Linked DNA regions of Homo sapiens. The protein of the gene in region 1 interacts with the protein of each later gene in a pairwise test. Each region holds a gene or a part of one and is shown in the gene's direction. Other genes may lie near its edges.

The links.
Region 2: the proteins of USP25 (region 1) and VPS45 interact in a two-hybrid assay, tested with the Homo sapiens proteins (one large-scale study listed by BioGRID and IntAct).
Region 3: the proteins of USP25 (region 1) and PRKACA interact in binary tests that used the Homo sapiens proteins (3 or more experiments, as listed by UniProt).
Region 4: the proteins of USP25 (region 1) and PUS10 interact in binary tests that used the Homo sapiens proteins (3 or more experiments, as listed by UniProt).
Region 5: the proteins of USP25 (region 1) and SYK interact in binary tests that used the Homo sapiens proteins (3 or more experiments, as listed by UniProt).
Region 6: the proteins of USP25 (region 1) and RSL1D1 interact in a two-hybrid assay, tested with the Homo sapiens proteins (one large-scale study listed by BioGRID and IntAct).
Region 7: the proteins of USP25 (region 1) and MID2 interact in binary tests that used the Homo sapiens proteins (3 or more experiments, as listed by UniProt).

What each region holds. Positions count from the first base shown.
Region 1 is NC_000021.9:15,834,482-15,837,981, forward strand, and holds part of USP25 (ubiquitin carboxyl-terminal hydrolase 25), read left to right. Parts: intron 1-3,500. UniProt on the Homo sapiens protein: Deubiquitinating enzyme that hydrolyzes ubiquitin moieties conjugated to substrates and thus, functions in various biological processes including inflammation and immune response.
Region 2 is NC_000001.11:150,070,776-150,074,275, forward strand, and holds part of VPS45 (vacuolar protein sorting-associated protein 45), read left to right. Parts: intron 1-1,390; coding exon 1,391-1,451; intron 1,452-3,500. UniProt on the Homo sapiens protein: May play a role in vesicle-mediated protein trafficking from the Golgi stack through the trans-Golgi network.
Region 3 is NC_000019.10:14,100,763-14,104,262, reverse strand, and holds part of PRKACA (cAMP-dependent protein kinase catalytic subunit alpha), read left to right. Parts: intron 1-1,348; coding exon 1,349-1,447; intron 1,448-3,354; coding exon 3,355-3,437; intron 3,438-3,500.
Region 4 is NC_000002.12:60,939,723-60,942,489, reverse strand, and holds the end of PUS10 (tRNA pseudouridine synthase Pus10), read left to right. Parts: intron 1-56; coding exon 57-95; 3' UTR 96-2,267; downstream 2,268-2,767. UniProt on the Homo sapiens protein: Protein with different functions depending on its subcellular location: involved in miRNA processing in the nucleus and acts as a tRNA pseudouridylate synthase in the cytoplasm.
Region 5 is NC_000009.12:90,839,819-90,843,318, forward strand, and holds part of SYK (tyrosine-protein kinase SYK), read left to right. Parts: intron 1-3,500. UniProt on the Homo sapiens protein: Non-receptor tyrosine kinase which mediates signal transduction downstream of a variety of transmembrane receptors including classical immunoreceptors like the B-cell receptor (BCR).
Region 6 is NC_000016.10:11,845,043-11,848,542, reverse strand, and holds part of RSL1D1 (ribosomal L1 domain-containing protein 1), read left to right. Parts: intron 1-736; coding exon 737-875; intron 876-1,699; coding exon 1,700-1,848; intron 1,849-1,940; coding exon 1,941-2,042; intron 2,043-3,500. UniProt on the Homo sapiens protein: Regulates cellular senescence through inhibition of PTEN translation. Acts as a pro-apoptotic regulator in response to DNA damage.
Region 7 is NC_000023.11:107,835,866-107,839,365, forward strand, and holds part of MID2 (probable E3 ubiquitin-protein ligase MID2), read left to right. Parts: intron 1-3,500. UniProt on the Homo sapiens protein: E3 ubiquitin ligase that plays a role in microtubule stabilization. Mediates the 'Lys-48'-linked polyubiquitination of LRRK2 to drive its localization to microtubules and its proteasomal degradation in neurons.

The sequences.
Region 1 (3,500 bases):
GTTCCAGCTTTTGTTTGTTTAATTTCATCTTTCGCAGACAGAGGTTTCCTTGCAGCATTACCTGGTTGGGCTTCAGCATTATCATTTGAACTTTAGAAGGAATTATTACTTCAATAGAAGATTGTTTTACAGTGCTACAATGTAGTATTGTGACTGTCGCAGGCATGCACAAATCTGTCCAGATACTTAACTTATTTTCATGTAGATCAAATAATTGTCGTTGATTTTGATCCTGAGAGGCAGATAATTCAGCATTTTTTAAAAAGATAATGGTATCACAGCAACATTTGGATACTACAGTGCTATGGAGAATACCACCATTATAGTGGCTGGTGAACTCTACCATTATGTAGGGCTGCACTTTTCCCCCACGTGTACAAGGCTACCGCGTAGAGCAGGTGAAGCTATGTGGGTCCACAACAATGTAGTTTTTAGTAGATGTCAAGAGGTATCTAAGCTCAAATCACAGTGTAGTAACTATATTATAGTTCCTTTCATTTTTAAAACATTTCTGTCCCTTTGTGATTTCATGCTTTGCATTCTGTACATATTCTTTCCAAATCACTCCTCAGAACCTGCCCCAAGATGGAGCTACTGTGTTATTGTTCCCTTAACATTTACTTATTCCATTCACATGTGACTATTCTTGTTATTAGTGGGAGGAAGGGGCTGCATAGTGTACTATAAGCAGTTGTGGTACCTAAGCTCCCAGACACAGGTGAATCCTCCATTCATTGGTTAAGCTCCAGTTTTATTCTTGGCTCACCTATATTTTGTGATACCAAAATATTAAGTTCTATATATCCTCCTCCTCTTCATCCTGTCTGTTTCTCATCTCTCCAAATTTTCAGAGTTAACATATTTTATTTCTGCTTAGTCAAACGAATACATATTTCCAACTAATATTCCTATCTATTAAGGACTAGCCTTGCCCCATCCTCATTTTACATTTGTCATCTTTTTTCTTTCTCTGTGAAAAGACCATGTGTGCATAACTGCATCCATTTTCATGATCAATACATCTGACCATACACTTTACATGGTGTTTTGTAATTTTTAAAAAATGCAGTACTAGGTATTGGACATATATTTTCATGTCTGTTTTTACCATGCAAAATAATCTTAGAATGTTGATATATTTCTGGGAGGAACCAGAATAAAAGATGAAGAGATGGAAATGGTCAATTCCTATTCCTAGATAACTTTTATAGTTACCTTTCAGCGTGGGTTATTTAGAAAGCAGTGGTAATACTACTTCTGTAGGAAACATTGTATCCTCCATAGACTTGACGGAAATATGCACTTGGTTTGAATTAGTAGAAGTAGAACATGCCAAGTCCATAAATTTACAGAGTGAGATTGTTGTTTAAAAGATTGGTTTCTATTACTGTTATCTTTGAGATTATATTAAGAAATTTGTTCTCTGTTGCAGGATAGTTTCACATATCATAATTGAATAAGACTAATGTTTCATTAGAACCATTTATTCCCTATTATTAATAGGGAAATTTTATTTTAATGTCCATGCCATCCTCTTCTGATTCTTCTCATGGTTTTCAAAGTAAGTAATTTAATTTGGTATAATACTTCCAGGATCTCAAAGCAAATCTGTATTTTAATCTCTCAGGTGTTCACTAGTATTACCAGTGACTAGTGGAAATAATAAAAGGAAATCTTGTTCATAAAATCCAACAGAATGATTTTTTTCCTCCCTGCAAAATCTTCTCGTTAAAGCTGAAACATAAGACCTCATAAAATTCAATTTCTACTGAGTGATATTCCAATTAAGAGTACTAATTCATATTATATTAATCAAATTAGTATTTGTTCCTCTTCTGCTAAAATGTGATCGAGAAATTCATGCGTATCAGTTCACCAGCACCATTCGTTCCCTACTGAGATAATAAATGATGGGAAAGTATTTTTTGGTTCATTTCATGCTGCTTCCCTAGATCTGCTTACTGCAAAGGCAAACTTACCTGAATACTTTTGTTGAGATTTTCAGCCAGCCATTCTTTGCTGTCAGTGTGGGGATCAGAATGAGTAGGGGAGCAAACTTACCTGAATACTGTTGTTGAGATTTTCAGCCAGCCATTCTTTGCTGTCAGTGTGGGGATCAGAATGAGTAGGGGAGCAAACTTACCTGAATACTGTTGTTGAGATTTTCAGCCAGCCATTCTTTGCTGTCAGTGTGGGGATCAGAATGAGTAGGGGAGCAAACTTACCTGAATACTGTTGTTGAGATTTTCAGCCAGCCATTCTTTGCTGTCAGTGTGTGGATCAGAGTGAGTAGGGGAGCAAACTTACCTGAATACTGTTGTTGAGATTTTCAGCCAGCCATCCTTTGCTGTCAGTGTGTGGATCAGAATGAGTAGGGGAGCAAACTTACCTGAATACTGTTGTTGAGATTTTCAGCCAGCCATCCTTTGCTGTCAGTGTAGGGAACAGAGTGAGTAGGGGAGCAAACTTACCTGAATACTGTTGTTGAGATTTTCAGCCAGCCATCCTTTGCTGTCAGTGTGTGGATCAGAGTGAGTAGGGGAGCAAACTTACCTGAATACTGTTGTTGAGATTTTCAGCCAGCCATCCTTTGCTGTCAGTGTGTGGATCAGAGTGAGTAGGGGAGCAAACTTACCTGCATACTGTTGTTGAGATTTTCAGCCAGCCATCCTTTGCTGTCAGTGTGTGGATCAGAGTGAGTAGGGGAGCAAACTTACCTGAATACTGTTGTTGAGATTTTCAGCCAGCCATCCTTTGCTGTCAGTGTGTGGATCAGAGTGAGTAGGGGAGCAAACTTACCTGAATACTGTTGTTGAGATTTTCAGCCAGCCATCCTTTGCTGTCAGTGTGTGGATCAGAGTGAGTAGGGGAGCAAACTTACCTGAATACTGTTGTTGAGATTTTCAGCCAGCCATCCTTTGCTGTCAGTGTGGGGATCAGAGTGAGTAGGGTTTTTTTTTCTGAGTGTGAACAGCACACCCTACCTAAGGCCACTTAAGAGACACTGGAGTCAGAATCTCTGGAGAAAGGATCTGATACAGTGCTATCTTAAAGAGATCTTCAGATAATTCTGAGGTTAAGCAGCATGGCTCTAGGCTGTATTTATAAAACAGAAATTATGCTGGAGAGAAGAGCGTTGTCCGAGTTACTATTTTACTTATATTACTCTTGTCTTATCCAAGAAGTATCTGAAGTCCTTACAATATAGCACACCCAGATTTCTTTAAAAAATAAGGAAACACTAGTGAAGATTGGAATGAAGTGTATTGCGTAAGGTTTTATAAATTTCTCTAGAGGAAGCAGGCAGAGTTGGCTCTGGAACTTCTCTACACTGTCTACAAGTTAAAAATAAGCTGATGTTCCAGGAGAGTACGGTTGGATCCTGAGAGTAAGACCTGGTAGAATAAACAGTATCGTCAGTGTTCTCAGATTCCTTGAAAGCAGGAACTAGGTGATATTCTTTTTTTTTTTTCTGAGACAGTTTCACTTTGTTGCCCAGG
Region 2 (3,500 bases), on another chromosome or scaffold:
TCCAGCCTGGCGACAGAGCAAGACTCCGTCTCAAAAAATAATAATAAAATAAAAATTAAAAATAATTTTTAAAAAAGAATCTTTCCTTTTTCTTTTTCCTCTTTTATATATTCTCTTTTGTCTTTTTCCACATTGTCTGAACTTTTAAGAATCTTTTAATTCACTTTGTTATTTTTGCCTAGCATATTACGAGGAAGTAATTGAGGTTTAAAAGATTTATTATTTAAATTTTTTGCCTTAAGATTATATTATAAAGTTAATTTGAAATCTAAATTGCATTTTTAAATCTAAATTACAATTTTTAAAACCCTTTCCCCATTAATAAGCAGTATATATTGCTTACTTTTTTTTAATTCTGTAAAGAAATGTGATTTTTAAAACAAATTAATATGTTTAGGGAACAATTTATATTGAAATTTAACCAGGTGTTATAGTATCAAAAACCAATAAAACCTGCATTATAATCTTATGTAATTGGAATCTTATATTTTGACCATATAAAAATCAACTTTTTTGTTTTAAACTTTCATACTTTATTTTAAAACAATGTAATTGTAGAAAAGATCTTAGCCTGCTACTTGCAAATACTTCACAAACATTGTAGTTGTGCAGAGTCTTACATCCCAATAAGTTAAAAGCCAAAGTGAATATAATTAACTTTATTTTCTCTTGCATGTTAATTTTTAAAGGAATAGACACATTTAATGCTCTATATAGGAATTTTGATCAGGCCAGGCGCAGTGGCTCATGCCTGTAATCCTAACACTTTGGGAGGCCAAGCCAGGTGGATCAGTTGAGGTCAGGAGTTCGAGACCAGCCTGGCCAACATGGTGAAACCCCGTCTCTGCTACAATTACAAAAAATTAGCTGGGTATGGTGGCACAAACCTGTAATCTCAGCTACTTGGGAGGCTGAGACAGGAGAATTGCTTGAACCCAGGAGACGGAGGTTACAGTGAGCCAAGATTGTGCCATTGCACTCCAGCCTGGGCAACAGAGTGAGACTTAATCTCAAAAAAAAAAAAAAAGAATTTTGAGCAAATGAATACAATTTATAGACAAGCAGCTTGATGTGAGTTTGCAGAATTATAATCAATTTTATGTTGTGTTTCAACATCTGTGTCCTTTATATTCTTTATCTTAATTGGCCAAAATGCAGCTGGTTAATATTTAATATTATACACATATTATTAAATAATATATGATTCCCGATCATTGTATTTAATTTATCTCTTTTGTCTCCAGCCCTTACCCACCAACATAAGCACACTTAACCTAGACTTCAATATGCAGTAGACGCAGTAAATAAACAAATCAATGGGTGAATGCTTATTACTTTTTTCCTTAAGCAACTCTCCTCATATTTTGTTTGCTTGTTCTTCATTTTCTAGGAGAATGTGGATTATATTATTCAGGAGCTCCGAAGACCCAAATACACTATATATTTCATTTGTAAGTATGTTAGTTCACTTTTTCAAACATGTAACAACATCCCAGTTAGTGTGTTTCATTGAGCCCTTCATATCATCAATAACTTCATTGAATCTGTCACTATAAAAGTCTAGTTTATTTAATGTCCTTCCAAAGTATTAAAAATCTTTTGACCTGCCGGGCGCGGTGGCTCACACCTGTAATCCCAGCACTTTGGGAGGCCAAGGCGGGCGGATCATCTGAGGAGTTTGAGACCAGCCTGACCAACATGGTGAAACCCCATCTCTACTAAAAATACAAGATTAGCTGGGCATGGTGGCACATGCCTGTAATCCCAGCTACTTGGGAGGCTGAGGCAGGAGAATCGCTTGAACCGGAGAGGCGGAGATTGCAGTGAGCCGAGATTGCGCCATTGCACTCCAGCCTGGGCAACAAAGCGAAACTCCATCTCAAAAAAAAAAAAAATACTTTTGACCAATATTCTGTTTCAGAGGGCTAAATGTGATTTCCATTCATCTTTGATTGCTTAAATTAAAAATTTTACATTTTACTTTGCCTTTCAAGATGCTTTGTAAGTCAAAAGTTTTAAGTAGACAAATTTCACATCTCACCCCTGCCAAAAAAAAAAAGTATATACTTATCCCTGTTTTACACTTAAAAATTGAGGCATGGAAGCTGATTTATTTTTTGAAGTGGGAAGGTAATACTTGAGTTTGCTGGAAAAGCAGAAATTTACTTTACATACCAGATAAAAGCCTTTCACTTCTCTTTGTTACTATATTTAATGCACTGAAAGTATAAATCATCAGGTAGTGATCTCTTATGTGCACAACTTTCTTGGAGTGGGGGTTAGGTAGGGGAGATCTGGAAATAAACTAGGTTTGTGTTTACTATACAATTTACATGGATTTTTTTGATCCAATACATTCGGCTGTAGAAGTTACATCTATTCTCCTCTAGATGTCATTATTTATCTTTATGTTAATAGTGTTAGTGTAGTCTATTTGGTAACATTTCCAAAACCAAGGACTAGATTTAACAGTAAGTAGGGCATTTGAGAAGTTTTAAAGCTTACTTAAAGGTATTAGAGTTTTAGGGTTTAGACTACAGTCTAAGACGTACATACTTTCTTCAGCGTATACTACTTAAATAGAATAATGATACAAAAAATTAACATTTGCGAAAAGACTATATATATATAAGAGCTCTCTCATATTTTATTTCATTCAGTTCTGTGTAGAATTGAAAAGTTACATAAAGCTTGTCCAGTGGGTTTTCAGTGCACGACGCCCCAAGAGGTAAAAATAGGCAATTTTATTAATCTGTGGCAACTTAATTTTTGTTTGTTTTTGTCTGTTTGTTTTTGGCTAATAGTCACAGGTTTTCTTTTTAAAATTAAACTTTCTATTTTGAAGTAATTGTAGATTCATGTGCAGTTAAAAAAAAAACAACGAATAATAATACAGAGATCCCAGATACCCTTTACCCAGCTTCCCCCTGTGTAGTATCTTACATGATGATAGTACAATATCACAACCAAGATGTTAACACTGATACAGTCAGGATACACAACATTTTCATCTCTATAAGGATCCCTTTTATTAGCTTATATGGACTTCTGTCCCACCCCAACCCCCTCATTAACCCTGGTAACCACTAATATTTTCTCCATTTTATATTTTGTCATTCGAAGAATGTTCTATAAATGAAATCATACAGCATATAATCTTTTGGGACTGGCTTTTTTCACTCAGCATAATTCTCTGGAGAGTCATCCAGGCTGTTCTGTGTGTGTGTGTGTGTTGTTTTTGTTTTTTTTTTTTGTCCGAGAAGCAGTCTTGCTTTGTCACCCAGGCTGGAGTGCAGTGTCGCCATCTCAACTCACTGCAACCTCCACCTCCCGGGTTCAAGCGATTCTCCCACCTCAGCCTCCCGAGTAGCTAGGATTACAGGTACACACCACCACGCCCAGCTAATTTTTGTATTTTTTTTTAGTAGAGACAGGGTTTCACCGTGTTGGTTGTCCAGACTGGTCTCAAACTCCTGACCTTGGGTGATACGCCCGCTTCA
Region 3 (3,500 bases), on another chromosome or scaffold:
CGGGTTCATGCCATTCTCCTGCCTCAGCCTCCCGAGTAGCAGGGACTACAGGCGCCCGCCACCACACCCGGCTAATTTTTTGTGTTTTTAGTAGAGACGGGGTTTCACCATGTTAGCCAGGATGGTCTCGATCTCCTGACCTCGTGATCCACCTGCCTCGGCCTCTCAAAGTGCTGGGATTACAGGCGTGAGCCACCGTACCCGGCCTGGTTGTTTTGTTTTTGAGACAGGGTCTTGCTCTGTTGCCCAGGCTGAAGTGCAGTTGGGCTCAAATGATCCTCCCACCTCAGCCTCTGGAGCTGCTGGGACCATAGTCGTGCCATGCCCAGCTAATTGCTTTTGTTGTCCTTGTTGTTGTTTGTAGAGATGGGGTCTCGCTACATTGCCCAGGCTAGTCTCAAACTCCTGGGCTCAAGCGATTTACCTGCCTGGGCCTCCCAAAGTGCTGGGATTACGGGCGTGAGCCACCATGCCCAGCTGGTGTCAGTTTTTTAATTTATATTTTAGATACTTAAAATTTTTGAATTTGGCTCCCCATCCGACCAGCCATATTTCAAGGGCCCAGCATCCCCCTGTGGCTAATGGGGACTGAACTGGGTAGGGCAGGTATAGACTCTGAGGACACAGCTATGTGAGCAAAGCAGTTGACAGCTGACTGAGGGACCAGGCTGGCCACATGTTACACACCAGCCTGACATCAGCCAGCTGTGTGACCTTGGACAAGTCACCTCCCCTCTGTGTCTGGTCTTCCAAACTGGCGTACTCCCAGCATGGGCCTCTAGGGCTTCTATCCTGATTCAGTGAGAGACTGGGTGCCAGGTGCCTGCTCATGGCATCTGCTATTAGGGGACAGCTGATGGCTGAGGAGCTGTTAGCCTGAGGTTCAGGTTGCTGTGTGGAGTGTTCTAGACAAGGGTAAGGCAGGTCCTAAACCCCCCACCTCTTGGGCTTCTCCTGCCTGTCTTTTCAATTTCAGTTCAGCTGCCCCTTCCTCCAGAAAGCGCTGTCTGATTCCCCCTTCCCCAGACCACGCCAGGTACTTTACATGGGCTTCTTGGGGGCTGCTTCTCCACAACCCCAAGATACCCTCCACCACGGCTCTGACCTCTGTGGGGGTAACCCATGTATTCTTTGCCCTGGACTTAGTGCCGTGCAAGGACAAGCAGCCCCTAGCCTCCCTGATGCTGTGTCCTCAGCATCAGCTAAGGGCCCGACAGGCCACAGGCACACAAATGATTCTGGCTGAAGGAACCGGCCTGGCTCCGGCATCCCTAGTTCCAGGCATTAGGGGAAATGAGGCCCCTCTCACCTCCCCCTCCTTTCTGCCCTCCCCTCCTTCCCTTCCCAGGTGGTGAAACTGAAACAGATCGAACACACCCTGAATGAAAAGCGCATCCTGCAAGCTGTCAACTTTCCGTTCCTCGTCAAACTCGAGTTCTCCTTCAAGGTGGGGTCCCAGTGGCCAAGGGCGGGGGGTCACTGCATTGGGTCCCAGCCTTCTGGCCCCCAGGGCTGGGGTCGGAGCTGAGGACAATCAGTGGCTGCTCTCTTTTGTGGAAGAACAAGATCCCTGGAGGAGGGAGATCAGGGGACAGGAGTCAGGCTGGGACTCTGGTAGACCCAAGTTCAGTTCCTGGTCCAGCCAGTTTGTAGTTCGATACCCTTGGTGAGTCACCCAACCTCAGTAACATCCCTCAAAAGCAGCACCTGGTTTATGGTAAGAGCCTGACCCAGGAGCACAAACTCTGCCCCAGGCAGCCGGGGTTCATTTCCCAGTTCAGTACTTCTTGATGTGTGGCCCCGGGCAAGAGACTTATCTCCCCAAGCCTCAGCTTTCTCATGGTAAAATGGGGATCATACCAGTTCCAGCCTGGTGGGGTTGTCATGACAGTTCCAGGCACGTCTTGAGCGCCCTTTGGGAGCCGTTTTGGGTGCCATCCAAAGCTGTGGTCATGAGAAACAGGAAAGGCCACTCAGGGCCAGCTTCATGGACGTTTGACCCAGAGAAGCACAAGGGCCTGTTCTCCGAGGGACCCCACACCTGGTTTAACGCTTTGCTGCTGCTGCTGTCTTGAGATCCGTAATAATTTTTTTTTGTTGAGACAGAGTCTCACTCTGTTGCTCAGGCTGGAGAGCAGTGGCGCAATCTTGGCTCACTACAACCTCTGCCTCCTGGGTTCAAGCAATTCTCCTGCCTCAGCCTCCTGAGTAGCGGGGATTACAGGTGCCCACCACCATGCCCAGCTTATGTTTGTATTTTTAGTAGAGACAGGATTTTGCCATGTTGCTCAGGCTGGTCTTGAACTCCTGACCTCAAGTGATCTGCCTGCCTTGGCCTCCCAAAGTGCTGGGATTACAGGCATGAGCCACTGTGCCAAGCCTAATTTTTATTTTTTTTATTGAGACAGAGTTTGGCTGTTGTTGCCCAGGCTGGAGTGCAATGATGCGATCTCAGCTCACCACAACCTCTGACTCCTGGGTTCAAGCAATTCTTCTGCCTCAGCCTCCCGAGTAGCTGGGATTACAGGCATGTGCCATCACATCTGGCTAATTTTGTATTTTTTAGTAGAGACAGGGTTTCCCCATGTTGGTCAGGCTGGTCTTGAACTCCTGACCTCAGGTGATCTGCCTGCCTCGACCTCCCAAAGTGCTGGGATTGCAGGTGTGAGCCGTGCCCGGCCATTTTGTTTTGTTTTGTTTAAGATAAGGTCTTACCCTGTTGCCCAGGCTGGAGTGCAGTGGCGCAATTACAGCTCACAACCTTTGCCTCCCAGGCTCAAGCAATCCTCCCACCTCAGTCTCCTGAGTATGAGACTACAGGTGCACGCCATGATGCCCAGCTAATTTTTGTATTTTTGCAGAGACGGGGTCTCACTATGTTGCCCAGGCTGGTCTCAAACTCCTAGGCTCAAGTGATCCACCCACCTTGGCCTCCCAAAGTACTGGGATTATACAGGCATGAGCCACCACACCCGACCCTCTGTAATAATTTTTTAACCAGGGGCCATCTTTTTTATTCTGGGCCCCACTAATTCTGCAGCCTATCATGATCCCATTTTACAGATGACAAAACTGTGGCCTCAGAGCCTTACTCAAGCTCCCAGAGCAAGGTACTACAGAGTTCTCTCTCCAGCCAAGGCAGGCTAACCAGGTCCTGACATACCTCTGAGCCAGCCCTCACTTTCACCCATTAACAGCAGGATAAGGGTCGCCCCTGTAGAACATGATTCCTACAGGGAGCCAGGATCGCTGTTGTCATTTAATGTTTGAACACCAGCCGGGGAGGCCCCCAAGGCCTTCAGATCGGGTCCAAGTCTCAGGGGTGGGCCCTTGACCAGCCACTGCTTCCCACAGGACAACTCAAACTTATACATGGTCATGGAGTACGTGCCCGGCGGGGAGATGTTCTCACACCTACGGCGGATCGGAAGGTTCAGGTAAGCGGGCCACCCCCCATCACATCAGGCTGTCAGGGTGTCCACAGGTGGCAGTGCACGACC
Region 4 (2,767 bases), on another chromosome or scaffold:
CAAATGCTTACCACAACAGTAATATCTGTTTTAATGACTTCTTTTCTCCCTTCTAGTCTGTAGATGTTGACTGGCCACCTGCTCTGGATGACTAGCTTTCAAATTTGGAGACAAAGAGTATGGTTTTCCTGGCATGATGTGGACATCCATGGAGCACATGCCGTAAAATGGCTGTTTACCCACCATAACGGTGTCTTGAAAACTATTTGGATCATGTTGATCTATATAATTGTTAATTTGTTGTAACATCTCAGGATCTATATATGTGTATATTTTGTGTTAAATTGTTCCAAGGATGTCTTAGGATTTTTCTCATTCCCTCTTTCACCCCCACAAACCAAACTATGAATAATGAAATAATTCTCCTTAATTCTTTCATTTAGAGAGGTGCACAAACAGGACACATTCTCTGTTAACCTAAGAAGCTGTAATTTCAGCAAGATTTCCCTCCACAAGAGATATACCACCTTTAAAATCATGTTCTAATTTTTGTAAATTATCTGAATAAAAGTTATATCTAGATTTATGCAGCATAATATCCTATAATAGTCTAAGATTGCAAATGCAAATCTGACATCATTATTTTCCCCAGGAAGCCTCAAACAAGCTATTACCAATGAAGTTCTTTTGGCTGTGATTTGTCATAAATCTTAACCAAACTATGAATAATGAAATAATTCTCATTAATACTTTCATTAAGAAAGAATTTTGACAATCTAAAATTGTCAATATAGGTTTCCTGTGGAGGGAAAGTAAAACCGTAGGAGCCAAGGCATGCCATGGTAGGAGCCTTTCATAAATCTTTTAAATAAGGAGAAACAAGTGCCTTTAATAACTTCAATCCCAGGGTTAAGAATTTGAAAAATTGAGATTGCTAAACAAAGACGAACTGGTATTATTTCAGAATGCTTCAATATATTATCCAATTATAAACATTTTAATAATACCTTATTAAAGTAGATAGGATATTGTCTCCATTTTATAAATATGGAAACCAAAGACTAGAAGTTAAATGACTTATCCAAAATTGTTAGCTACTTCTATATTGAGGACTAGAACTGAAGTTTCTTGGTTTCTAGGGTCTTTCTAATAAGCCCTATTACTGAGCACCTGTTTGTGTGAAGGGGCAGCTATGGATGCCATTTAAACTCATGTAACTGATAATTAACTTTTGGAATGTAGTTACCAAATCAAAGAGCTTACCAAAAAATAGCCCAAGACTATTTAATACAATCTTATATAGTTACCATTTGTTATTAAGTTAAACCTCAGTTGGTATTATGAAGAGGAAAAACATTAAGCTAAACCTAAAAAAAATGAATGGGTCATTTAAGTTTCAGAAAGGAGCCTCATTACAATTTCAGATTTGAGTATAATTTCCATCACCCTAATTCAACTATTTGAGCTTTTTTTAAGAATACATGTGACTTGACTAGTATTAGATTACTAACCATTTCCCATCTCTATATTAAACATAAATCACAGATACCAAGATTCACTTTAGATATGAGGAAAATGGTTTTAATGGACACAAAGGAGTCAGCCACGTTGGAACCAACATAGTTTCATACCACGTTGAAACCATGTGTTTGATATGCAAATAACAGCAAATAATTTTTTCACTCTTGTCAATGCCAATGCATTGAAAGGCCCAGAAAATGAGAAAAGGATAACAAACTTTTGATAAAAAGGTAAGAATTTCTGTGTGGATGTTCCTCAGTTTCTGGGAAAATTTTGCTACAAAAGAGATTTAAATAATTTAGGAGGCAGTCTTTTGCATGGTATTTTTGGCTTACCTTTGAATCTAGTGGACCTGTAATATGTAAGAATGAAGAATGTGCTTAGCAAACTGAAATGAGAAGATTTCTATTTCTTAAATTTCTATTCCTGAGATTATATAAAATTTCACGCAAAGAGTAAGCATTAGCTTTAAATACTTCTTCCAAATGTTCCTAGAATTTTGAGACAAAGATTGTTAAAAATTAATGTATGTCTTTGTTTTAGGCAGAACTGGAAATATTAAGTAGTGAGAGTACTATAGTTTCCCTTTTGCCTACATAAAAGCATTTTAAAATTAGTTTTATGATTTCTTTGTAAGCTTTATTTAAATTCAAAGTCTTTTTCATAACACTTAAGAGAAAGAGCCCTTTGTACTTCTTAGTATCTCTTATATAGTCCCAAATATAGTCTGTGGTTTATTTTAGGAAAAACATCAACTCTGAATACCTGGAAAAGTCAAAAGAAAATAAAGTTGGTAAAATGAAAAATGTCCAAGTAAGAAAACCGGTTACATTTGCAAGTTATGTGAAGTAAATTTAGAAGTTAAATTTCCATTTTGTAAGAGAAAAACATCTTACTTGGCAAATCTTTTCTTTTGGAGCTAATTATTCTTTGATTTTTAAGTCCACATAAGAGAATGAACTTTGATATCAGCTTTTCTGATTTTTTAACAAAGGCTACCCTTGTTTATTATGAAAAATATTACTTTTATGATTCTATTTTGAATTTTTAAATTTTGAAATAATTCCAAACTTACAGGAAAAGTTAAAGTACAAAGAACCTTTTTCCCTGAACCATGGAGCCAGTGCTGTCTCATGATCTTAAAGGCTTCAGTGTGTAATTTCTACAAACAAGGACATTCTTTTACTTAACCACAACACAGTGATCAAAACCAGGAAATTAACACTGGTATATTACCATCTAACCCACAGACCCCGTTCAAGTTGCCAGTTGTCCCATCAGTGTCCTTCATAGTCAAGTGCTCACA
Region 5 (3,500 bases), on another chromosome or scaffold:
AGGATGACTGAGATGGCTGGGAGGAAGAGCTGCACGCCTCAGCAGAAAGCACACGTGGTGAGAACAAGAAGGGAAAGCCACAGCATCCCGGTGCAGTCCAGTGTGGTCTGTGGACTGGGCATGTTGGAATAGGCAGGAAGGGCTGATGTGCGCTTTGAGGGAGGACCGGGCAGCTGGAGAGGGAGGCGTCAGGAAGCAGGAGGGCAGAAGGTGAGGAGTGAAGGGCAGCAGTGGAAAGGACAGGGTTACGCCAAGCAGTGGTCATGGATATGGGCAGTAAGGAACATGCACCAAGGGCGCCTGGAAAACGAACCTTAGAGAACGCAAGTCCTGCGGAGGACTCCTGGGTTCCTGGCTGGGACACCGCCTGGGCAGGGAAGGCAGAGAAGATGGAGAACCTGGTCTCAGGTGGCATCAGAACCCAGCATCCGCATCACCAGGATTGCAGGAGCAGCAGCGTCTCAGGCCCTGGGTGTGTCAGAGCCCCCAGGCCACGTGGAAGTATGAGACGTGCTGGGCTGCAGGGGAAACAATGGAAATGAGGTTGGAGGCCCGAGAAGACCCACTGCAGGAAAAGGGTGGAGTGGGGGAAAAGCAGGCTGGGGGCAGTGGCTGGCCTGCAACAAAAGCATTGTAGAATGCAGGCGTGAGCCACCGCGCCCGGCCAAGGCGGGCAGATCATGAGGTCAGGAGATCGCGACCATCCTGGCTAATGCGGTGAAACCCCGTCTCTTCTAAAAAAAAAAAAAAAAAAAAAACTGTAGAAAGGGGAAAGCAGTCCAAAGAGAAGTATTTCTTCCAAGAGACTCATCAGCACACTGTGTTTCCAGAGATGTCTTTCTGTTAACAGCATTCTTAGACTCAAAAGTAAATGTAGATATACTTTAAAAAACAAAAACACCTTGCTAAGAGATGAATTTTTAGAAACTTGTTGGACAAAGAAAAGTCATTGATAGTCAACTGCTGTGAGAGGCAAGCCAGGAAATGATGATTAATACCCTCAAATTATAATAAAACCCATGCCTCATTAGGGGCTCGCCCAGGAGTACTGACTTGTGGATAGACACCGTCTGGGGAAAACTCTGTCGCCTGTGTCAGGCTGATGCTCTTACATTTTATAGCCCCTTGTAGGATAGTGCATGTTGAGAAGAAGCCGCTTCACATCATCGTGGTGCAGGATCTGTGGTGTGGTGTGCTTCATGTGTGTGTTTTGTGTGTGTAGTGTGTATGTAGTGTAGTGTTAGTTGTGTGTACTATGGTGTGTGTGTGGCATGTATGTAGTTTGTGTGTGGTGTGTGTGCAGTGTGTGTGATGTGTGTAGTGTGCATGTAGTGATGTGGTGTGGTTTGTGTGTGTTTTTATGTGTAGTGTGTAGTATGTGTGTTGCATGTAGTGTGTTGTGTGTCGTGTGTATGTAGTTTGTGTGTGTGGTGTGTTTGCAGTGTGTGTGGGTGTGTACTGTGTTATGTGTGTAATGTGTATGTAGTTTGTGTGCTGCACGTAGTGTGTTGTGTGTACTGTGTATGTAGTTTGTGTATACTGTGTGTAGTATGTGTGCAGTGTGTGTGTAGTTTGTGTATGACGTGTGCAGTGTGTGTAAGATGTGTGTAGTGTGTTGTGTGTGTAGTGTGTATGTAGTTTGTGTGTGTGTGGTGTGCGTTTAGTGCATGTGTGGTATGTGTCCATATGTGTGGCATGCATGTAGTGGGCATGTAGTATGGGGGTGTATGTGTGTGGTGTAGTGTGTGTGATGTGTGTAGTGTGCATGTAGTTGTGTGGTGTGTTTCGTGTGTGTTTTGTGTGTGTAGTGTGTATGTAGTGTAGCATGTGTTTAGTATGGTGTGTGGTGTGTATGTAGTTTGTGTGTGATATGTGTGTAGTATGTGTGATGTGTGTAGTGTGTACTGTGTGTGGTGTGTATGTATTTTGTGTGTGTGGTGTATGTGATGTGTGTAGTACATGGTGTGTGTAGTGTGTTATGTGTGTAGTGTGTTGTATGTGGTGTGTATGTAGTTTGTGTGTTGTGTGTGCAGTGTGTTATGTGTGTTGTGTGTGTAGTGTGTATGTAGTCTGTGGTGTGTGTGATGTGGGTAGTGTCCGTGTAGTACATGGTGTGTGTAGTGTGTGTGGTGTGTGTAGTGTGTTGTATGTGGAGTGTATGTAGTTTTTGTGTGTTGTGTGTGCAGTGTGTGATATGTGTAGTGTGTTGTGTGTGTGGTGTACGTGTAGTTGGTGTGTGTGATGTGTGTAGTGTCCATGTAGTACATGGTGTGTGTAGTGTGTGTAGTGTGTTGTATGTGGTATGTATGTAATTTGTGTTGTGTGTGCAGTGTGTGTTGTTTGTAGTGTGTTGTGTGTGTGGTGTGTATGTAGTTTGTGTGTGTGGTGTGTGTGTGATGTGCATAGTGTGCGTGTAGTGCATGGTGTGTGTGTAGTGCAGCTGTGGCATGTGTTCGTAGTGTGTGTGGCATGCATGTAGTGTCCATGTGGTATGGAGTGTGTGTGTGTGGTGTAGTGTATGTGATGTGTGTGGTGTGTGGTGTACCGTATGTGATGTGTGTAGTGCGCATGTAGTCATGTGGTGTGTTTCATGTGTGTTTTGTGTGTATGTAACGTAGAATTTGGTGTGTGCGGTGTGTTTCATGTGTGTGGTGTGTATGTAGTTTGTGTGTATGTGTATGTGTGTGGGGTAGTGTGTGTGATGTGTGTTGTGTGCATGCAGTGGTGTGTTTCATGTCTGTTTTGTGTGTGTAGCATGTATGTAGTGTAGCATGTGATGTGTGTAGTGTGTTTCGTGTGTGTGGTATGTATGTAGTTTGTGTGTTTGGTGTGTGTGATGTGCATAGTGTGCATGTAGTACATGGTGTGTGTGTAGTGCAGGTGTGGCATGTGTTCATAGTGTGTGTGGCATGCATGTAGTGTGCATGTGGTATGGAGAGAGTGTGTGTGTGTGTGTGTGTGTGTGTGTGTGTGTGTGTGTACCATGAGGGACATGCGCTTTGCTCCCTGGATAAATGGATGGAGTCATGTAGATAATTTTCCATTCACGACCAGCCCCTTTTGGTTAAAATGTGCCTCCTTGGATACTTTTGGGGCTGGCAATATGTATCCTTCTAGTTTACAACCATGATTGAGAGGGAATACTCTCCATGTTAAATATGCATTGGCCGCCTTTCTTTTTGCTTCTGAAATGTATTTATTTACTGCAAGCAGTGTCTCTCCTGTGTCAGATGTCCTCGTGGGCTGGGAACCGGCACTATCTCTTTAGCACGGGCCCTGCAGATGGGAAGTGGCGTTGCCCAGGAAGTGGTCTGGAGAAGCGGGGAGAAGACAGCCTATGGGCCCCAGGCCTCGGGAGCCAGGGAGGGTGTCACTCTTCATGTCTCAGGCAGTGGCTTGTTGCTATCATAGCCCCGGGCTGGAGGTGGGAAGGCCTTATGGTGACCACAAGTCACAGTTCCGTGTGGGCCCTCAACGTGGCCTCACTTCACCTCTGGGGC
Region 6 (3,500 bases), on another chromosome or scaffold:
AAAAAAAGGAAAAGAAGAAAGAGTTATTATGTTTATGGAGCTAAGAGTTTTAAAGAAGGTAAAATTCTGAACCAGGCTTGTCCTGATTAAGCTAGGTTTTTATAGCGCATTACAGTACGTGTGCACATACAGCAACATATGTATAATAATTATATATGCAAGCATTTGGAAGTCTTTAAGTATATTTTAATTCTTGTTGTATCCCAAGTGTTAATTGATATTTGGGCCTGTGTGTTTTTGTGATTTACTTGCCATTGAAAGTGAGTTTTGTTTTTTGTTTTTGTGTTTTGAGACGGAGTTTGCCTCTTGTTACCCAGGCTGGAGTCCAGTGGTGCGATCTTGGCTCACTGCAACCTCCACCTTCCGGGTTGAAGCGATTATCCTGCCTCAGACTCTCAAGTAGCTGGGATTACAGGCACCTACCACCGTGCCTGGCTAATTTTTTATAATTTTAGTAGAAACAGGGTTTCACCATGTTGGCCAGGCTGGTCTTGAACTCCTGACCTCAGGTGATCCATCTGCCTTGGCCTCCCTAAAGTGTGGGATTACAGGCTTGAGCCACTACTACCGGCCATGAAATGTATTTTTAAGTGTTGTTCTTGGTGCATTATTTGCTTAACTAGCATGACTAAAAGTTATTTAAATAACACTAAGTTTATCGCGTATTCTGTGTGATACAAACATGCATAATGTGTGTAATAATGCTTTCCTCGGTTTCTTTTCACGTATTTTGTAGGACCTTGCCTCATAGTATTCGATCAGATTCAGAAGATATCTGTTTATTTACGAAGGATGAACCCAATTCAACTCCTGAAAAGACAGAACAGTTTTATAGAAAGCTTTTAAACAAGCATGGAATTAAAACCGTTTCTCAGGTAGGAAGCCTGGTTAATATTTTCAAGTTATTTAGAGGATTTAATTCAGGCGAAATGGTATCACAAATACATTGCTATATTTCCTAGTATTTTTCTTCTACTTTTCTCTTTTTAATTTAATTTGTGGTGGCGTGTACATCAGTAGCTTTTATATCTTGCAAATTATAAAAGAGGTGGCTCGTGTCATTCCTCTGTACTTCCACAGCATCTTGTTTTTCTCTGATTTGCTGTTTTGTAGTTGGTGTACTTGTCTTTATTACCCTCTGGATCTAAGGTATCTAAGTTTTTTTGTTTGTTTGGAGTCTCGCTCTGTCGCCCAGGCTGGAATTCAATGGCAGGACCTCGGCTCACTGCAACCTCCACCTCCCAGGTTCAAGCTATTCTCCCACCTCAGCCTACCGAATAGCTGGGATTACAGGCACCTGCCATCATGCCCGGCTAATTTTTATATTTTTATAGAGACGAGGTTTCACCATGTTGGCCAGGCTGGTCTTGAATTCCTGAGCTCAGGTGATCCACCCACCTCGGCCTCCCAAAGGGCTAGTATTACAGGCGTAAGCACATACAGCAACATATGTATAATAATATATATATGTTGCCCACCTAGATCTAAGTTGCTTTAGCTGGGGTCTTTTCTCATTTGTCTCAGTGTTCCCAGCATGTAGCGTAGTGCCTGGCACATTTTAGGCCCTCAAGTGTTCATTAAAGTATAGAGGCATGGCTCTAGGACATTTTTAAATCCAAATCCAAATTGTTGCCTAAGTATTTCTTCTCCTTGTTTAGATTCCTAACTTCTTGTTTTTATTCTTCTCTATACTTCCTAGATTATCTCCCTCCAAACTCTAAAGAAGGAATATAAATCCTATGAAGCCAAGCTCCGCCTTCTGAGCAGTTTTGATTTCTTCCTTACTGATGCCAGAATTAGGCGGCTCTTACCCTCACTCATTGGGAGACATTTCTATCAAAGAAAGAAGTAAGTTTCTTAGTAATGACTGGACTTTAGCAGCATGAAGCTTCTAGGTGTGTATGCATTGTGTTCTGAATGCCTGTGTGTTTATTTTGTAGAGTTCCAGTATCTGTAAACCTTCTGTCCAAGAATTTATCAAGAGAGATCAATGACTGTATAGGTGGAACAGTCTTAAACATTTCTAAAAGTGGTTCTTGCAGGTAGGTAAAAGGCATTCATGTGTGCCTCTTTTAATCTTGTATTTGACAATGATTTTATATATACTTATTCGTTTTGTTTTGTTTTTTGTTTTTGTTTTTTTTTTTTGAGATGGAGTCTTACTCTGTCTGCCAGGCTGGAGTGCAGTGGCACCATCTCGACTCACTGCAAGCTCCGCCTCCTGGGTTCACGCCATTCTCCTGCCTCAGCCTCCCGAGTAGCTGGGACTACAGGCGCCTGCCACCACGCCCGGCTAATTTCTTTTTGTATTTTTAGTAGAGACAGGGTTTCACCGAGTTAGCCAGGATGATCTCGATCTCCTGACCTCATGATCCGCCCGCCTTGGCCTCCCAAAGTGCTGGGATTACAGGCGTGAGCCACTGCACCTGGCCTTTTTAAAAAGATTTTGTTAATGGCTCCAGATCCTTTTTTAAAACTAAAATCTATTCCTCAGAAGTGATCAATTCTCGGGTCAGGTGCAGTGGCTTATGCCTGTAATCCCAGCACTTTGGGAGGCCTAGGCAGGAGGATCGCTTGAGCCCAGGAGTGCAAGACCAGCTTGGGCAACATAATGAGACCCTCTCCCCCAGCCAATTACAGAAAAATCAAGAACATTAGTCAGGTGTGGTGGTGCATCCCTGTGCTCCCAGCTACACAGGAGGCTGTGGCAGGAGGATCACTTGAGCCTAGAAGGTCAAGACTGCAGTGAGCCATGTTCTTGTCACTGTTCTCCAGTCTGAATGACAGAGCAAGACTGTCTTTAAATGAAAAAAAAAAAAAGTTCAGTTCTCTAGAACAATGTTGTCTGATAGCACTTTCTACTGTGATGGAAATGGCCTGCATCTGTGCTGTCTCATACAGTAGGCACTATTTGTATGTAGCTATTGAGCACTTGAAATGTGGCTACTGTGTTAGAAGCTGAATTTTTAGTTAATTTAAAATAGGCACATGTGGCTAGTGGCTGATGGTCACTGCATTGGACGGGGCAGCTCCAGATACTAAGAAAAGCAAGGAGAGTAAGATGAATGCTTGGAGAACATGACTAGTTCTAGGCTTTGAGCTTGTCCTTTATCGTGCCACTGCACTCAGTGGTGCAGTCACAGTTCACTGCAACCTCCAACTCCTTGGCTCAAGCAATCCTTCCACCTCAGCCTCCTGAGTAGCTGGGACTACAGACACACATCACCATACCTGGCTAATTTTTCAATGTTTTGTAGCGGCGGGGTCTCACTATTTTGCCCCATCTAGACTTGAACCCCTAGACAAAACCGGTCCTCCTGTCCTGGCCTCCAAAAGTGTTGAGATTATAGGCGTGACCCACCACACCTGGCCTCAGATTGTCCTTTAAAAGCACCATATTACCCCTTAACGTGAAGATCCACCTCATTCTTGGTTTAACTTCCTATTAAATGAATTCAGCACTTATCCTGTTCATCTGCCTATTTGGTGTGTGTGTTGTC
Region 7 (3,500 bases), on another chromosome or scaffold:
AGTACCATTTATGTATATTTTCTTTGGTTGCTTATGCTTTTGGTGTCATCTGAGAAACTGTTGCCTGCCTAACCTAAGTTCACAAAGATTTATGCCTATCTTTCCTTCCAAGAGTTTTATAGTTTCAGCTCTTACATTTAGATCATTGATCTGTTGTGAGTTAATTTTTATAAATGATATGAAGTAGAACTCCAACTTCATCCTCTTGCATGTGGATATCCAGTTGTCCAAGCACCATTTGTTGAAAAGAGTATTCTTTCTCCATCGAATGGTCTTGGAACCCTTGTTGAAAATCAGTTGACCATAGATATATATAGGTTTATTTCTAAAGTTTTATCCTAAGTTTGATTCTTAGTTTTGCCACTTAGAAACAAGTGTGACCTTGAACAAGTTACTTTTTTTTTTTTTGAGACGGAGCCTCGCTCTGTTGCCAGGCTGGAGTGCAATGACACGATCTCGGCTCAAGCAACCTCCGCCTCCCGGGTTCAAGCAATTCCCCTGCCTTAGCCTCCCGAGTAGCTGGGACTACAGGCATGCGCCACTACGCCTGCTAATTTTTTGTATTTTAGTAGAGACGGGGTTTCACCATGTTGGCCAGGATGGTCTCGATCTCCTGACCTTGTGATCCGCCTGCCTCAACCTCTCAAAGTGTTGGGATTATAGGCGTGAGCCACCACGCCCAGCCTACTTTTTTTTTTTTTTAAATAATGATAATACCTACCTTTTAGAGAGTTGTTGTGAAAAGTAAATGAGGCAATGCGCATAAAGGGTATTGTTCAGGTGCTTAGATAACCAGAAAGGTAGGGGAAATGGGGGATAATTGAAAGGATTCTAAAATATTAGGAGTACCCAGAACAAGAAAGCCTCATAAATTAGAGATGATTGAACACGTCTGAAGAAGTTGATAAAAGTATTCAGTACCCGAAAATTGGCTAAAACAGTTAATATATGATAATTAAAAATCAAACAGATTCGAAACAGTCTAGAAAAGCTAAAATAAGCAAGAGGCAGTAACTATCTTAAAATATTCTTTACAGAGCTGAAATAAGTTAAGGTAGGTTATTTTAGAGTACTAATGATTGGGTTTTTTTCTTTCAAAGACTCTTGAGAATCTTTTGAAAGCTATGGGCAACCCTTTCCCCAGGAAAAATGCATATATGACATACAAACACATTCTGCAAACAGTTCTAGGAAGTTCAGAAGTCCCCGGTTAATAAATCCTATTTTGACCTTACCCAAAGCAATCCTGACCCATAGCGTGCTTTCCCAAGCTTAATTTCATAATGAGGTTCAAGTGTCACACTGACTTGGAAATAAATTTTAGATTTCCAAACAAAATTTAAGAGCTTTTCCTCTGTACAGGACAATTTATATGGCACCCTCTTAAGCCTTAGGAAAGCTGTGGTACTCTAATTGTTGTTATATAGTTTTCAGCATACATAGACATGGCTTTCAGCAATACATGTGACCAACCCAGGTAGCTTCCAACACAGACATTGAGGAATGCAGGCATACAGTTCTAGAAGAGATAGTAATAGAAGTGCAGTGTGAGGTGGAGATGGGCCTAGAAGACAGAGATATGATTCTGGAAGGAACTCAGAATGAAATAGGCAGATTCAGAGAAAGTAAGAGAGACAGAGAGAGATAAAAATAGACGTAGAAACATGCTGTTTAAAAAAAAAAAACTCTATAAACTATGTTAAATATACCAAAGTAAAGATTTCCAGAATTCAAAAAAAAAAAAAACTGTCTTGTAAATGGTCCAGATAAACCTCAGTGAAGGAGGTGAGATGATTGAAATAAAGGTAAGGGAAAAGAGCACAGGCATTGGAATTATACTGACCTGTGCTCTGGGTATGTATGTTTTTGGTTGATTTATTTAATGATTCTAAGCCCTAGTTTCCTAACTGTAAGGTGGATACAGTAATAGTAACTTCCTCACAAGTTTCCTGAAAGAATTAGTGAAATAATGTGTAAAGTGCTTAACATAGTACTCAGAATACAGGAGATGCTCAATGAATGCTAGACCCCTTCTTACTCCTAGTTTAAGTGATACTTCATTAACAATTATTGAATACAGTTTGTGTGAAGCACAAACTTGTGCTGTGAATGAAAATATAAAATAGTTGATACTCTCAAGGAGAAGGAAGAGTTAGCTGGAAATACAGCTATGTAAGTGAAATAAAACAGAATGTTCTGGAAGCCACCAGTGGTTGAGGTGATAAAAACATGTAGATGAGAGATCTCTTAGATTTCTAGGCTTGGATGGTGATATTCACCAGACAGGGAAAATCAGAAGAGGAGCAGGTGTTTTTTGTTTGTTTTGTTTTGTGGAGGTGAGGAGGAGCACAACAAGTTCATTTATAGACATGTTGAGTTTGAGAATCTGAGTAATATATCAAATGGAGCTCTCTAAGGCAATATTCCTGCTGTCAGTGGAAGTTGGAATCTTCATCTCTCAAAAGTCTCTTCCAATTCTAAGATTCAATGATGTATGTACATTTTAATTGTTTACTTTTTCATCTGTATGGGTGAACGTTGATAGATGTTATAAGCTACAAAATACTGGCCAACAACTTTCAAGCACCTGTAAATTCTAAAAGAAAAATACCTTGTCTCACTTAAAAAAACTGGCTGTACAAACATCTGAATCTACTAAACCAACTGAGTGACTGATTTACAAAAAGATTCTTCACTTTTATAACCTCATTTCATATAGATTTTCATTAAATAGGTAGTTAGTTCAGTGCATTTAAAAGGTTTGATTTAGAAACAGCTTTTAGGTGTACATCTATTGTACTTAGGCATAAAGTATAATTGTACTCAGTACTTATGTATCCTGTGACAATATCTGAACAAATACCAATGGCAGAGCAAAATTTTCAAGCTCTGATGAGAGTCTCCAATGATGACAAGATAATAAACAAAAGCTACTCAAAAGCAAACAATGCTTTTCTTGGGCTTGGCTCTGTGGCTCACTCCTGTAATCCCAGCACTTTGGGAGGCTGTGGTGGGCAGATTGCTTGAGCCCAGGAGTTCAAGATCAGCCTGGGCAACATGGCAAAACCACGTCTCTACAAAAAATATAAACAAAAATTAGCTGGGCTTGGTGGCATACCCCTGGAGTTCCAGGAGGCGGAGCCCAGGAGGCTGAAGCAGGAGGATCGCTTGAGCCCAGGAGGTGGACGTTGCAGTTAGCCAAGATTGTACCACTGCACTCCACCCTGAATGACAGAGGGACACCTTGTTAAAAAAAAAAGCAAGAAAGATGCCCTTTTTCTTTCCTATACATAGGATTAACATTTTCAGTCAGTAAGATATGTTTTATATTTTTCCTTAGTTAAAGACAACTTAGAATATTTATGTGTGTGTATTTTAATTAATGGAAGACTCTAGGCAATTAAGAATTAGGTACCTGTGTGTTCAGCACAGAAATGCCTGTGGAAAAATAGATAGAGTTACCAAGAGGTTGGTTTCTTGTCAGTTGGGTGGCTTTTTTT